Homo sapiens: one gene and its partners. The protein of the gene in region 2 purifies or fractionates together with the protein of the main gene of each other region. This does not show direct contact. Each region holds a gene or a part of one and is shown on either strand. Other genes may lie near its edges.

What was found.
Region 1: the proteins of MYH7 (region 2) and CCNQ purify together in Homo sapiens (affinity purification with mass spectrometry; one large-scale study listed by BioGRID and IntAct). This does not show direct contact.
Region 3: the proteins of MYH7 (region 2) and TARS3 purify together in Homo sapiens (affinity purification with mass spectrometry; one large-scale study listed by BioGRID and IntAct). This does not show direct contact.
Region 4: the proteins of MYH7 (region 2) and CLSPN purify together in Homo sapiens (affinity purification with mass spectrometry; one large-scale study listed by BioGRID and IntAct). This does not show direct contact.

What each region holds. Positions count from the first base shown.
Region 1 is NC_000023.11:153,596,213-153,600,466, forward strand, and holds the start of CCNQ (cyclin-Q), read right to left. Parts: upstream 2,928-4,254; 5' UTR 2,862-2,927; coding exon 2,750-2,861; intron 1,951-2,749; exon of another isoform or gene 1,210-1,950; intron 1-1,209. UniProt on the Homo sapiens protein: Activating cyclin for the cyclin-associated kinase CDK10.
Region 2 is NC_000014.9:23,422,013-23,425,660, forward strand, and holds part of MYH7 (myosin-7), read right to left. Parts: intron 3,407-3,648; coding exon 3,270-3,406; intron 3,013-3,269; coding exon 2,757-3,012; intron 2,138-2,756; coding exon 1,895-2,137; intron 1,712-1,894; coding exon 1,535-1,711; intron 314-1,534; coding exon 168-313; intron 1-167. UniProt on the Homo sapiens protein: Myosins are actin-based motor molecules with ATPase activity essential for muscle contraction. Forms regular bipolar thick filaments that, together with actin thin filaments, constitute the fundamental contractile unit of skeletal and cardiac muscle.
Region 3 is NC_000015.10:101,717,847-101,721,494, forward strand, and holds part of TARS3 (threonine--tRNA ligase 2, cytoplasmic), read right to left. Parts: intron 3,477-3,648; coding exon 3,280-3,476; intron 1-3,279. UniProt on the Homo sapiens protein: Catalyzes the attachment of threonine to tRNA(Thr) in a two-step reaction: threonine is first activated by ATP to form Thr-AMP and then transferred to the acceptor end of tRNA(Thr).
Region 4 is NC_000001.11:35,745,852-35,749,499, forward strand, and holds part of CLSPN (claspin), read right to left. Parts: coding exon 3,616-3,648; intron 2,754-3,615; coding exon 2,554-2,753; intron 2,211-2,553; coding exon 2,056-2,210; intron 1,142-2,055; coding exon 915-1,141; intron 1-914.

The DNA of each region.
Region 1 (4,254 bases), on a different chromosome or scaffold from region 2:
GGACTTCAATCCAGCGCTGGCTCACTGCTCCAGTGAGGGGAGCCATTGGAATGGGCCCTAGCAGGTACAACCCTACTTGGACAAGGCTAAGAACTTCCAGCAGAGCCAGTGGCTCCTGCTGGGTCTCTTACTGGGCTCTCAGACTCTAGTGGGTGACCCAAGCCCCTGGGGATGGTGTTCAAATGCAGACTTCCCCTTTTGTAGGTCTGCGGCTCTGAGATTCTCCACTTCTGACAAGCCCCAGGTCATGCCCATGTCAGGGGTCTATAGACCACGCTCTGGGAAACAAGGGTTCCGAGGACCGCTCAGTTAGCAACTGGCATAGCAGCTTCTGCAAAACCCTGGAAAAGGACTATATGCTGTTGTGTGTCTGGGTTCACCTTAGCAAACAGCTAGCTAGAAGTCGCCCACCCCACAGCTACGACGACAGAAAAGAAACGGCCTCGTGGGTGCCACAAGTCCTGAAGTCACAGTGAAAGATTACACTGAGCACTGGTTTCGTAGTCCACAGGTTAGAAGAGGTGAGCAAAGCAAGCAGCGTGACTGCCAAGAGTAACCACTTGCATTGCAGAGAAAAGGCAATGTTTATGGCCACAGCCAGGCACCAGGGAAGGACACCAGCACATTGAAAAGTGGGCTGGGCATGCTGGTTTACGCCTGTAATCCCAGCACTTTGGGAGGCTGAGGCAGAAGGATTGCTTGAGCCCAGGAATTCGAGACCAGCCTAGGCAACAGAGTGAGACCCTGTCTCTACAAAAAAGAGAAAGAAAAAAATTTTTAAGGTGAACAAAACTCAAAACACCAGAGCAGGATTCAGTGGATTCTACTTAGGGGTTAAAGCCCATCCCCAGCCCATCCCTGAATGGCTCCTAAGAAAATCACTGCCCTGGTGCACAGAACCAAAACAAATTCACAACCACCAGGGTTCACAAGACAAGGTTAAATGACATCCACTAGGCCAAAACAGAAAGGCGAAGAACAACCGACAATCAACCATGAAATGACAGTCAGCATCCTCTGCCTAAGAAGGTAGATCAGTTCCCTAGGGCTACTGCAACAAATCACCACAAATTCAGCCACTTAAACAACACACATTTATACTCCTCCGATCCTGGAAGTCAGAAGTCCAAAACTAGCCTAGAAAGCTAAGATCAACGTCTAAGCAGGGCTGGCTCCTTCTGGAGGCTCCATGGGAGAATGTTTCCTTGCCTTTTCCAGCTTCTAGAGGAGGGCTGCATTCCTTGGTTGCTGGCCCCTTCCTCCATCTTCAAAGCTTCTAACTCTGCTTCTGTCCTCACGTGGCCTTCTCTGACGGTGACTCCTCCTGCCTTTGCCTTATAAGGATGGGTGTGGTTACACCCAGATAATCTAGGATGATCTCCCATCTTAAGGTCTCTAATCACATCTTCAAAATCTCTTTTGCTATATAAGATGACATTCACAGGTTCCAGGGATTAGGATAGGGACATCTTTGGGAAATCAATATTTAGCCTCCTACAAAGGACAAAGGATTGTGTAATACATTTTATAAAGAAGTCCCTCAGAAGGTCTAAACTTGTTATATAAAGACAATTCCTACCTGGGACCCCTCATTCCAGGAGATGCCAGATAAGGTGCTGTTACTGACATGACCTTCCAAGCTTTGTTTTACAGAGCAAACCCCAATTTACACGGACCCTCCGAGCAGACGGTAGCAGATGAGGTGTCACTGCCATCCTTCCCTAATAATAACTTTGCAACTCTTCTTGCAAATTACAGTAAATTTACATATCACTGGGATGAACAGTCCTGCAGCAGTCCTCAGACTCTCCGCCCACCTTGGGTAGAAAGCACATCTGCCCAACCCTTCTCCCCCAAGCAGTAAAGGTAGGAAATAACTACCCGCCAACTAACAGTATCTCCTATCAAGATACTGTTGATGGGCCGGACGAGGTAGCTCACGCCTGTAATCCCAGCACTTTGGGAGGGCGAGGCAACTGGATCACCTGAGGCCAGGAGTTCAAGACCAGCCTGGCCAACATGGTGAAACCCCGTCTCTACTAAAAATACAAACATTAGCCGGGTACGGTGGCACACACCTGTAATTCCAGCTACTCGGAAGCGTGAGGAAGGATAATTGCTTTAGTCCGGGAGACGGAGGTTGCAGTGAGCCGAGATCACGCCACTGCACTCCAGCCTGGCCAACAGAGCGAGACTCCGTCTCGAAAAAAAAAAAAATACTGTTGATGGCTGGATGGAAACGATGTTTCTACAGAGATCTTAGCTTAATCACCTCGCCTGGGAAGCGCGGAGCCCAACACTACTGTGGATGTCCTGGCAGGGTTCGGAACAGGAGCTGCAAGCAGCCTAGGTCCCCGGAGTGACAGGAACCCTCGGACAGCGTTCTCCAAAAGGCTCCGCGCGACTAAGCGCCATAAAGTCTACCGGAGTGCAGGGCCGCGGGTGCCGGCAGAAGGCGTGGCGCACTGCGCAGAGCTGCGGGCGCCCGGGCCGGTCTCCGCCTCGCTGGAGGCCCAACCCGGCCACGTCCTCTCCTAGGGCCTGCACACCGGTCCACGCCATGGGGATACCTCGCGGCTCACTGCTCAGCACACCGGGCGCGGCGCAAAGGCGGAGGTCCTCAGCCCCGAGCAGGGCTTCCCGGCCTCTGCTACGGTGAGCACTCCAGAAGGCCGGCCTGGCCAGCCGGGCCCGCTCCGCGAAGCGGGCCGCGGCGCCGCCTGTCCTGGCCTCCCCCGGCCGCGGTTACCTGCCTCCATGATGAACCTCGCCACTCGGAAGTGCACCCTGGCTTCGGGCGCCGGCTGCCCCTCCGGGCCCCGCGCTGCAGGCCCCCCTCCGCCGCCCTCCGGGGCTTCCATGAGGCGCCGCGGCACCGGCGGAAGGAGAGGCGGCCCCGGCGCGCAGAAGCCGGCAGAACTGGAGGTGCTCGCGGCGGGCGCTGCCGCCCCACCCGGCCGCGTCCGGCCCCGCCCCGCCCCGCCCCTCGCCGCCCCGCCCCGCCCCTCGCCGCCCCGCCCCGCCCCTCGCCGCCCCGCCGCTCCTCCGCCCCGCCCCGCCCCTCAGGGCCCTCGCCCAAGGGTGAGCGCGCGCTTGCGCCACAGACGCTGCCTGGCCGCGCGCGCAGGCGCAGGCGCAGGCGCAGAGGCCGACACCACGGGGCGGCTGGTATGTGTCCACCGGCCCCTAGGCGCCTCGAGCCCCGCCCCTGGGAGACGCAGGCTCCTCCCCGCGGAGCGAGAGCCCGCGGAGCTGCTCCGAGACCCGCGGGAGGGCACCTCCGGTCACCCGAGCCGCAAATCCCCGCCGTCCGAAGGGGGTGTCGCCCCGGGCTGTCGGCCCAGCGTGGCTTAGGCCAGGTACAACCGGCAGCGCCCGCCAAGCCCTGGGCTAGGGACGCCTGCGGGAGTTCACGGGGAGGCGCCGGTGTCTGAGGTCTGAGAAGACAGCGGCCACCGGAAAAGGTGCTAATGTTTGCAGACCCCGATCCATCGACACCCCAAGGAAATGCTGTGCACAAAATTCCAAGAGGGCCTTTTCGAATAGACGCATGAACGGTGTTTGTGTCTGGATCGTCCAGCCTCCCGGGATCGATTGGGAATCTAGCTTCTGCTTGCCTTTCCAGCGCGACGCACAGTAGGAGCCTAATAAATGTTTGCTGAATGAATGCTGAATATCGAACTCAGGTATTTACCATCTCATTTTTCATTCGCGTCTTCCACAAGCAGGAAATGGTGCATCAGGCTTTAGGGACATAGAACCCCAAAGGTACTCACTCCCAAGTTAGTGACAGTCACTGGAGTCATTCTGATACATTCAGATCATTGCTACAATTTCAGACAGCTGGCAATATGGAGAGGAAAAAGCTACTGCTCCCTAAACCCTTCTGCCCAGGCGCCTTGATCTCCTGATGGTGTGGAAGTCTCCACCTCTTACCCCCACCCCACACACCCAGTCCGGCCTCATTCTCCTTCCTCAGCACTTCCTGCCTCCACCAGCCTCCCCAAGTCCTCTCTCCATCCCAGCTGGGTTAGTTTCCTGGGGCTGCTGTAACAAATGACCACAAATTGGGTTGCTAAAAACAGCAGAAGTATATCCTCTCTCAATTCTGGAGGCCAGACACCTGAAATGGAGGTGACACTAGGGCTTTGCTCCCTCAAAGGCTCTGGCAGAGGATCAGTTCTTCCTTGCTCTTCCAGCTTCTGCAGCCTGAGTTCTTCCTGGGCTTGTGGCCCCATCACTCCAATCTGTGCC
Region 2 (3,648 bases):
TGGGACTAGGGGAGGAAAGCCCTTGCCTGGGAGGCCTTTTCCCATGGTTTGCGCCTCCACTTGTGGAGGCTGCGTGAGGTTGTTGCCTCAGAGGATGGCTGTCTTGGGTCTGCTTGTACTGTTATGGGCTGGGGAGGAGGAAGGGCAGCAGGGAGGGGACACAGTACTTTTTCAGCCGCTCATCCAGCTGCTGCTTGTCATTCTCCAGGTCCATGATGCTCTCCTGGGTCAGCTTCAGGTCGCCCTCCAGCTTCCGCTTCGCTCGCTCCAGGTCCATGCGCACCTTCTTCTCTTGCTCCAGGGATCCTTCCAGCTGGTAGAGAGAAGGAGCCAGGCCCAGTGAGGCAAAGCATCCTGACTTGGTGATTTTGTTGTTCAGTTACCTCAGGACTTGGTAAATCTTTGTGTTCAGGACTTGGGAAACCTTCCCCAGAGTGGGCCAAATGTTATTAGGGGACTGTGAGATTGCCTAGATATAGGGGATGCTGAATCAATATTTTATAGATAAAGGAATAAATGACTGTGGGATGAAACCCCAAAGCCGTATTCTTTCTTTCTTTCCCTTTCTTTCTTTCTTTCTTTCTCTCCTTTCTTTCTCTCCTTCCTTCCTTCCTTCCTCCTTTTTTTTTTTTTTTTTTTTATGGAGTCTCACTCTGTCGCCAGGCTGGAGTGCAGTGGCGCGATCTCGGCTCACTGCAACCTCCGCCTCCCTGGTTCAAGGGATTATTCTGCCTCAGCCTCCTGAGTAGCTGGGACTACAGGCGCACGCCACCACATCCAGCTAATTTTTGTATTTTTAGTAGAGATGGGGTTTCACCATATTGGCCAGGATGGTCTCGATCTCTTGACCTCGTGATCCACCCGCCTTGGCCTCCCAAAGTGCTGGGATTACAGGTGTGAGCCACCGCGGCTGGCCGCCGTATTCATTCTTTCAGCATCCTATAAACACCTACTGGGCATCAGGCTCTGTGCTAAGCACTGCAGTCCCCAAATTGAATAGATCTAAGTTCCTATCTAAAGGAAGCTTGTAGTCTTATGGCTGAGATAGAAGCTTAAATAATTAAAATACAGAGTGATAAGTGAGTCAACAGACATATGTGCATCAGAGGGAACAATGATCAGATTCTGCCTTAAATATTGGAATTTCAAAAATTCTACTTGGGGAGCCTCACAAAATTTCCAAAGAAATTTATCATGTTCTTATGAGATGACCCTCTAAATCTTGTGTCAAAGGCAGAGATATATGGGATTGCACTTAAATTAAATAAGAAAACTCATCTCTATTATTGATCATACCAGTGAGATTAGATACATAATTCAGAATTGATCACCACCTCTGACTTTTCATTCCCCAGCTCCTTTCTAGAAAGATATCAGAAAAGTTAACATCCTCTAACCCTACCCCCCTCTAAACATAAACACAAACACACACACACACACACACACACACACACACACACACACACACACACACAGAGCTCTGGGCACAGATAGACATGGCATATCTAGGCCCCACAACTCTCAATCTACTCACATCATCCACTTGCTGCTCCAGCTTGACTTTGGCCTTAGTCAGGGTGTTGACCTTGTCCTCCTCGGCCTGAAGGTCATCCAGAGCCTGTTGGTGGGCCTCTTGCAGAGCTTTCTTCTCCTTGGTCAGCTTGGCAATGATCTCATCCAGCCCAGCCATCTCCTCTGTCAGGTTTTTCACCTGCCGACCAAGAATCCCATCTCCTTTAGGGTCAAAGGTCACCAGCTTGGTGCCATCTGTGGGGAGCTCCATGTCAAGGTCCATGCTGCTCTCTGGATGCCGAGTGGCTAGCCTGGGTCAAGGTCAGTATGGTCTGAGAGTCCTGATGAGACCCGGGCTGGAGCCAAAGGGAGCTGCCCTTACCTTGTTCTCTGTTGCGTGTTTCTCCTTCTCCACTTTGGCCAGTGTCAGCTCCAGATCATCGATGTCCCTTTTGAGCTCTGAGCACTCATCTTCCAGCTTGCGCTTCTTGGCAGTGAGCTCAGCATTCATCTCCTCCTCATCCTCCAGCCTCTCGTTCATCTCCTTCACCTTGGCCTCCAGCTGAATCTTGTTTTTGATCAGCTGATCACAGCGCTCCTCAGCATCTGCCAGGTTGTCTTGTTCCTGAAGGTGAGGAACAGAGGGGAGGCTGTTCAGGGGGTAAGGTCCTCATTCTTGCAGGTAGAGGGAAGGAGAGGCACATCACTCAAATAGGAGGGTAACTCTAGGATATCCCCACTTGGCAAGAGCTTCAGAAGTATGGGGAGGGGAAGAGTTTCAGGATAGTATAACTTGGGAACACTGGGGAGGGGAGCAGAGAGGAAAGGAACCAGAAATCTTCATCTGGACCTCTTCCTCTGGTCTCCTCCATCGAAGGGTGGGAATTGCATTTGCTGATGCCAAGCACTTATGTATGATGGCTTAATGAAATGGACAGCTTTATTCCCTGTCTAGAGGAAATTGAGGCTCAAAGATGATGCATGGTCTGCCCAAGGTCACAAAATAATTAAGCTGTGTATCTAGGTTGAACCCAAGTAGAAAGCCTGTGCTTTTAAAAGTCAGCTCTTTTCCCTCTGCCCTTTCCTCCTCCTGAGGGACCTCTTTGGAGGTCTTTAGAAGTGTTGATCCCAGAGTCCTCTGACTGAAGGAACAAGACAGTGAGCCCCTGTGCAGGGAGGTGCAGGGTTGTGGGAAGTGAAGGCAGAGCAGGGTGGAAGAGCCAACAGTAGCCCAGGAGCCTCACCGCCTGCACTTGGAGCTGCAGGTCATTCTTCTCCTGCAGCAGGGACACCATCTTCTCCTCCAGCTCCTTGCGGCGAGCCTCGGACTTCTCTAGCGCCTCTTTGAGGCGTGTGAACTCCTCCTTCATGGAGGCCATCTCCTTCTCTCTTTCTGCACTCTTCAGCAGCGGCTTGATCTTGAAGTAGAGCTTCATCCAGGGCCAATTCTTGACCCCCATGAAGGCCCGAATGTTCCACTGGATTACCAGCAGGGAGTCTCTGCAGGGGCCCATTGAAAGGAGTGCTGAGCCTCCTGCCTCCTTCCTACCTGAGGTCCTGAAACCTTGGGAATATCCCATTTCCTTCATCCCTCCCACCCTTCCTGAGGCCTCTGACCCTGTGACTGCAGTGTGTTCATATGAGCCCCTCCTGCAGGTCTCTGTGTTTGAAGATCTGCTGAGCTTTTTTTCCTGACACTGCCCCTGAACCAGCCTGGGCCTCAGAGAAGCGGGAAACCTCCTCTTGAGATCTCTCACCTACGTTCCAGCAGCTTTTTGTACTCCATTCTGGCGAGCACACCTCGGGACTGGGCCTGGATACGCGTGATGATGCGGCTCAGCCTCTCGTCCCTCATTTCCTCCAGCAGCCCCAGCAGCCCGGCCTTGAAGAACACCTGCAGGCAAGGTGTGTGTTGGCCATGACTAGGGAGGGGTACGAGGGAAAGAGATGGTGGGGATTACCTTAGGAAGGGTAACAGCCTAGAAAAGGATTGCAGGGAGGAGGTCAATGGCAGCTGGAGCTGGGATGAGGGGAGTGGTGCTAGATGTTCCACTGGGAGGGGTAGCATACAGGTAAGAGATTTTGCTAAGATGATTACAACAGGAAAAGCATCAGAGGAGTCAATGGAAAAGAGAT
Region 3 (3,648 bases), on a different chromosome or scaffold from region 2:
GTTGTAGCAGCTTAGTATATATCTTAAGTAATACAGAAATAAGGACCTGGAAGTAAAAATCCAAAACAAGTGGCACTGGCTTAACAGACTGGCAGTGAGTAACAAGGAAACAGATTCTAACATATGGAGAGCCAATAACCTTTGTGATAGTATATCAAAATATTTGATAAAACTTGCAGGCAAACCATGTGTCACAGTGCTTGTAGCACACAAGAAAGCAGGTATAAAAGGGGAGAGTAGGGCTGGGCGTGGTGGCTTACATCTGTAATCCCAACATTTTGGGAGGCTGCTGTGGGCAGACCACCTGAGGTTGGAAGTTCGAGACCAGCCTGACTAACATGGAGAAACGCCATCCTTACTAAAAATACAAAATTAGCTGGGTGTGGTGGCGCATGCCTGTAATCTCAACTACTCGGGAGGCTGAGGCAGGAGAATCGCTTGAAACCGGAGGGCGGAGGTTGTGGTGAGCCAAGATCGAGAAAAGGGGCGGGGTGGAGGTGGGGGGACAGTGTTGGTATACCCTGGGTAACTCTTGTTGCTTTCAGCAAGAAGCTACAAGAATGAGTTATCTCAGATGAAAACAATCTAGTTTGCCAGCAGAGGTGGAAGGGATAGGGAGGCTCCCTCTGCCCGTGTCCTGTAATTCAACTGACTAAAAGTTCAGAAACGTGGAGCTATGCAAGATGGGAAAGACAATCTTCTTTCCCAAACCGCAGGAGGGACAGGCATTGATAGCCCTTCTCAAAGGCCACACATAAATCCAGACAATAGAGGCCAGTGGAACTGCAAGGATTAGAGAGCAAGAGTGCCTCCCTCCCACAAGCCTCTGCTTCATATGATCTCAGTCCATTAAACAAGGAGACAGGAGTGAGCCGAATAAAAAAGCCATGCAACAACAGGGTGAGAAGTCTCTATCTAGAAGATTCTTTAAGTGAGATTACTTTCATGTGGAACGGATTAGCTGCAAACAGACCAGAGCCTACTATGGCTAACTGATCATGGTAATTGTATTGCCAAACAAATCATAAGCTCAGCTCACAAATATCTGTGACTATGTGATCCTTAAGGGAACCCTCAGGCCCCAAATGTGCACCACAGAACTGAGCTGTGGAAACTGCACAGATCCCAAGAGGACAAACTCGTGCACTTCAGATGTGACAAGTGAGGGTAATGGACAACTCCGAACTTCCCAAAGTGCAAAATCAGGGCCCATGGAGGATCATGGGATAAGACAGCTGCTTCCAGAGAACAAAGGATGAACAGGTGGGCTGACACAAGCACTAACTGCTGCCAGGCTGTGGGGCCTCAAGGTGGCTTCAAGCAGAATCTGATGACTTCTCTATACCACTCCCTGCTATATTTCTCCTCCTTCTTTTTTCCAAGCACACACTTTGTGATTGTCTTCTGTGTACTGTATGCACGTGTGGTGTGAGCAGACTTGTCTATCAGTTTATTTGTTGCTAGAATACAAGTGGTCAGCCTGATGGGGGGTGTTCTGTACATCACTCAGAAATCCCAGGCTTTGAGCTATGGAACATAAGAGTTGTCTCACTTGGGGAGTGAGTGTGTCAGATGTTGAAAGAAGAGTACCCACAGATATCTGGATGTCAGAGGGGCAGACTGTGGCAGACTCTCTGTTGTTCCATAAACCATTCCTCTCTTCCATGGTATGAATGCTTTAGCTGGACATGTGGCTGGGCGGCCAAGGGAGCTATATTCCAATTCTCTCTTACAGCTAGGCATAGCCATGTGACTAAATGTGAGCTAAGAGGATGTAAGTGGAAACTGAAGCCAGCCACTATGGGGTCTTGGCCTCAAAGCATCATTGCTCTGCAGCTTCTCTTCCTCCTGACTGCAGGCAGGCCCATGCAAGGACCCAGCTTCCACCGCTAGACACAAAGAAACCCTACCTAGGAGACAGCAGATCAACAAGATGGGAGGAAGCTGGGTCCATAAATAACTGCATGGACCAGAGATGTCCACTAGGCTTGACTGGTCACTTCTAGACGGTTAGCTTGCATTAGAAGCCCCTGGAGAGCTCATAAAAACACTGATGGCTGATCAATTCAGGGGGTTTGAGGTGGGATCCCCAAATTTGCTTTTCTAACAAGTTTCCAGGTGATGCCCATGCTGCTGGTCTGGGGACTACACTTTGAGAAATACTGACCCAACACATTTAACATGCAACCTGACTCTCCATGAGAAAACAAACTTATTCTTGCCTCAAAACCTGTTTTCTCCTAGCACATCATTCCTCCTGGAAAACATGAAAACAGGCTGGGAGAGCATTTAACAATATAATAGGATGAATCAGAAATACAATCTTAGCCATAGTTTTCAAAGAAAATCTGAGAATTTCAGTTGTTGAAACAGTTTGCTTTTTAAATGATGAACATTTATTTACATGGCATTAATACAATTGTATAGAAGCTATATAATTGTATTTATACAATAGCTTCTATACAATTGTATTTAATGCTAAGAATTAACATGAGTCAAAACAATATAAGTTCACTAATGTATCTAATTTCTAGAAAAGTCAAAGCACTTTTCCAAGACTGATAATAGCTCTAAAACATTTATCTTCAATCTATACTTAAAAGACCTGTAAAAACTCATGGAAATTACTTGATTGACGAATAAAGTCAGTGTAAAATGGCCTATCAAGAATTACAGATTTTTTTCTCTCCTATATATTTTTATTAGAACAGGAAATGATTGTGTTCTGATATTCAACTACTTATTTACATGGCCCTTGGAGAAGCCAGAGGAAAAAAATTAAATACATTTAATTTATTCAACTGAATAAAAAAAAAATTAGCTGATATGGTTTGGCTGTGTGCCCATCCAAACCTCATCTTGAACTCTAGTTCCCATAATCCCCACGTTTTGTGGAAGGGACCCAGTGGGAGGTAACTGAATCACAGGGGCTGTTACCTCCATGCTGTTCTTTGATAGTGAGTGCATTCTCATGAGATCTGATGGTTTTATAAGGGGTTTTCCCCCCACTTTGCTCTGCACTTCTCCTTGCCGCTGCCATGTGAAGAAGGACATGCTTGCTTCCCCTTCTGCCACGACTGTAAGTTTCCTGAAGCCTCCCCAGCCCTGCGGAACTGTGAGTCAATTAAATCTTCTTCCTTTATAAATAACCCAGTCTCAGACATGTCCTTTTAGTATCGTGAGAATGGAGTAATATATTAGCGGTCCCTAAGAAAACATTTTCACCAGGCTTCAGTATAATTACTTAAGATTGAATATCTTTTCCACACTGCGGTTTACCTAATTTCAGCAGCCACTTGGTAAGGCGTTGTTTTCCAGACTTCCCCTTGCACTGTTTGCCCATCAGCCACTCTTACTGTGATGATGTTGCTTGTATCCCCCTTTTTTCCATAAATGGCAAGTAAGAGCTGATGGTCTTTCTTCAGTATTTCAAAAAGCTTCAATCTTTCTTTTATGAAAATTGGTTGATGCTTCACCTGGAAATTATTAGAACATAATGAGATTAATATATACAGCCTACTGTTTTCCAGCTGCTCAGCTCTGAATCAGGCTCACCCCCTTACTGCCTTCTCAGTTCTACAGATGGTCCCAAGCTTACCATGGTTTGAATTACGATTTTGTTGTTGTTGTTGTTTTTTGGTTTGTTGT
Region 4 (3,648 bases), on a different chromosome or scaffold from region 2:
TATATGAAATTTATTATACATCAGACACTGTTCTAAACTTTGTACATACATTAATCATAAATGATATATGGGCAAAGCTAAAGCAGTCTTTTTTTTTTTCAAGACTTTTTTTTTGAGACAGTCTCTCTCTGTTGCCCAGGCTGGAGTGCAGTGGCACAATCTCGGCTCACTGCAACCTCCACCTCCGGGGTTCAAGCAGTTCTCCTGTCTCAGCCTCCCAAGTAGCTGCGATTACAGGCACGGGCCACCATGCCCAGATAATTTTTTGTATTTTAGTAGAGACGGGGTTTCACCGTGCTGCCCAGGCTGGTGGCGAACTCCTGAGCTCAGGAAATCCCCCGCCTTGGCCTCCCAAAGTGCTGGGATTACAGGCGTGAGCCACTGCGCCCGGCCTAAAGTAGTCTTAAGTTGATACTTTACCACTCTAAGAAAGTAAGAGTTCTAAATATCAGGGCACTAAGCAGTGAATTCAGTTTATACACAGATTCCATCACAGCCCTGTTTTCTGTGAACTTTTCACCTGAGGGTAAGGGGCTTCTTTTCTTTCTTTCTTTTTTTCTATTTTTATGCAGGGTCTCTGCCACCCAGGCTGGAGTGCACTGGTGTGATCTCAGCTCACTGCAACCTTCATCTCCCAGGCTCAAGAGATCCTCCCACCTCAGCCTCCCAAGTAGCTAGGACCACAGGCACGTGCCACCATGCCTGGCTAATTTTTTTTTTTTTTTTCGTAGAGATGGGGATTTGCCATGTTGCCCAGGCTGGTCTCAAACTTCTGAGCTCAAGCGATCCATCCAACTTAGCCTCCCAAAGTTCTAGGATTACAGGCATGAGCCACCCCACCCGCCCAGGGAATTCTTTTCAAGGGCACTGATACTTGGGTGTGGTAAGCTTGATACTCTCGGTTGGATATTTACCCTGAGAAGTGAATTTTCCTGAACAAAGGTTCAGAAGTTCCTCCATGTTCTCTTTCTTGTCACTCTTCCTGGGTAGATGTTTTTCAGCCTGAGATGTGAACTTTCCAGTACACAAATCCAACAGCTCATCCATGTTGGCATCCATGGCATTCTCATCCATACTGGCCAATGGCAATCGAGGCTTCAAAGCTTGGTACTGATTCCTGTGGTTTCTAACATTTAAGAACCTAAGAACCAATGAGCACAACGAATAGTGTAAAAAATTCCTCAGAGAGGGCCGGGTGCGGTAGCTCACGCCTGTAATCCCAGCACTTCGGGAGGCCGAGGCGGGCGGATCACGAGGTCAGGAGATCAAGACCATCCTGGCTAACATGGTGAAACCCCGTCTCTACTAAAAATACAAAAAATTAGCCGGGCGTGGTGGTGGGCGCCTGTAGTCCCAGCTATTCGGGAGGCTGAGGCAGGAGAAGGGCGTGAACCCAGGAGGTGGAGCTTGCAGTGAGCCGAGATCGCGCCACTGCACTCCAGCCTGGGCGACAGAGCAAGACTCTGCCTCAAAAAAAAAAATAAAAAAAAATTCCTCAGAGAAATGGCAAAGTAGGGGGTGAAAAACCTCTGAATTCATTTCCTACACCAGTTAAAAGCTGAATCTCAAACCAGAAAGCAAAAGATTCAAACTTTAGGCTTGTGTTAATCTAAAGAGGGAGGGAAAAGTTTTGTGAAAGAATAAAATGTTACTCAGAAGGTAAAGTGTAAAGGATAACTTTTAGCTTCAGATGATGCTAGAGCAGGGCTTGGCATTATGTCCTGTAATGTGCCACCAGTCTGTGAATTCTCAACCTTACCCAACAATAATAACATAGCAGGATGGATACAGGGAAATTTGATGACCTTACAATACAAGATCTATGCATTTCAAATAAGACAGAAATTGAAGGACCAGAATGTTAGCAAGAGCTATTTATGTTTATTTTCTGGACAGACTTTGTTCAAACTTATAGAATGTAATACTAATGGTCTGTACACCTTCTCTTTCTCAGAAGAGAAAGCACAGATGGAGTGACAGAAGCTCACTTATTTTTAAACAAAATTAAGCAGTACCCAGCACCATTCCCGCCCACAGAAACACAAAACTACCTACCCATCTGCATCCAACAGTTGGCTCTGAGTGTCATCTTCTAAACAGAACTGGAAGTCTCCTGCTCCTAGGAAAAGTGTCTTAGGCTCTGGGGAGGCGTTATACAGATCCTGGGAATCCTCTATGGGAAGTGAAGGCTCAGACAGTTTCCCTGAACTCTGGCACACAAACAAAAACAAACAATAACAAAACATTTTACAAATGTCAGTCATTGTCATGACAACCACAAAAGTTGCTATTTGCAATATTTAAGCTACTCTCAGGAAATTGTAGTTGAGGGGGACAATACACAGCCATGAGAAGCATAAAGAAAAATACCTCCAAGAAAGTAAGAATACTGGATGAAGCTTGTTTTTAATACACAAAGGGGGTGGATTTTTTAAACTGAACACACATAAGCTCAGTACCAACGTGGTGGGAGTTGGTTGGCTGGGACAAACTTTATTTAGCAATGTGGGAAGCAAAGAGAGGAGGAGATTAGAAAAACCATTACCATCTTACCTTAGAAGCTGAGCTGACCAAACTGGCTCGAAATAGCCCAGGGGAAGGAGATCTGAATCCTCCTGCTGTAGGGAAAAAACTGGTCCCACGGCCTGTTTGTCTGTTGCAAGGCTGATAGGATGGAATCGTGGAGCCAATCAGCTCAAAGCTGCTATTGTGGCTGCTCTCCTTTGTTAGCAATGAACATGAATCATCCTCATCTAAAGAAAGAGAAACACCTTTTAAGCACATGATTACAGAAATAAGGTGGATTTGTTTAGGAAAAAGAGTTGAGGATGAAACTGTCAGATAAAATTCATAGGCAAACCCCTCAAGTTATATGTTCCAAAACATTAAGTTAAAGGTAAATTACAGTACTAAGATAGCATTATATAATCAGGGCTTATTACTCTGAGCTAAGTGACACTTGAAAGTTCTTTTTTTTTTTTTTTTTTTTTTTTTGAGACAGTCTCGCTCTGTCACCCCAGCTGGAGTGTAGTGGCGTGAATTCGGCTCACTGCAACCTCCGCCTCCCAGGTTCAAGCGATTCTCCTGCCTCACCCTCCCAAGTAGCTGGGACTACAGGCGCGTGCCACCACACCTGGCTAATTTTTTATATTTTTAGTAGAGACAGGGTTTCACCATGTTAGCCAGGCTGGTCTCGATCTCCTGACCTCATGATCCGCCTGCCTCAGCCTCCCAAAGTGCTGGGATTACAGGCGTGAGTCACTGCGCCTGGCCGAAAGTTCTCTTCTTTCTCTTATCCTTCCTAATGCCTATGATCACACTCTTCATTGTCCAATCAATTATACGTCTTCCTTTGATCTACATACAGAAACATTTCATTGCTCACTCAATCAACACACATTCACTAAGGACATTATGTACCATGGTCTACTATAAATAAACTGCAAAAAATAGACCAAGAAAAATATTCTAATTCATAAACCCTTTTCATAGCTACATATGAAACTGGGAAGTGACCAGATTTAAAAACATGGAAACTTACCGTACTGCAGTCCTTAAATATCAAAGCTGAGGGACAAAAGAAATGTTAAGTTCTGCACAAGAATCACTACTTACCCAGTTTGCTAGGCTGCTTGCCTGAGTTTTCAT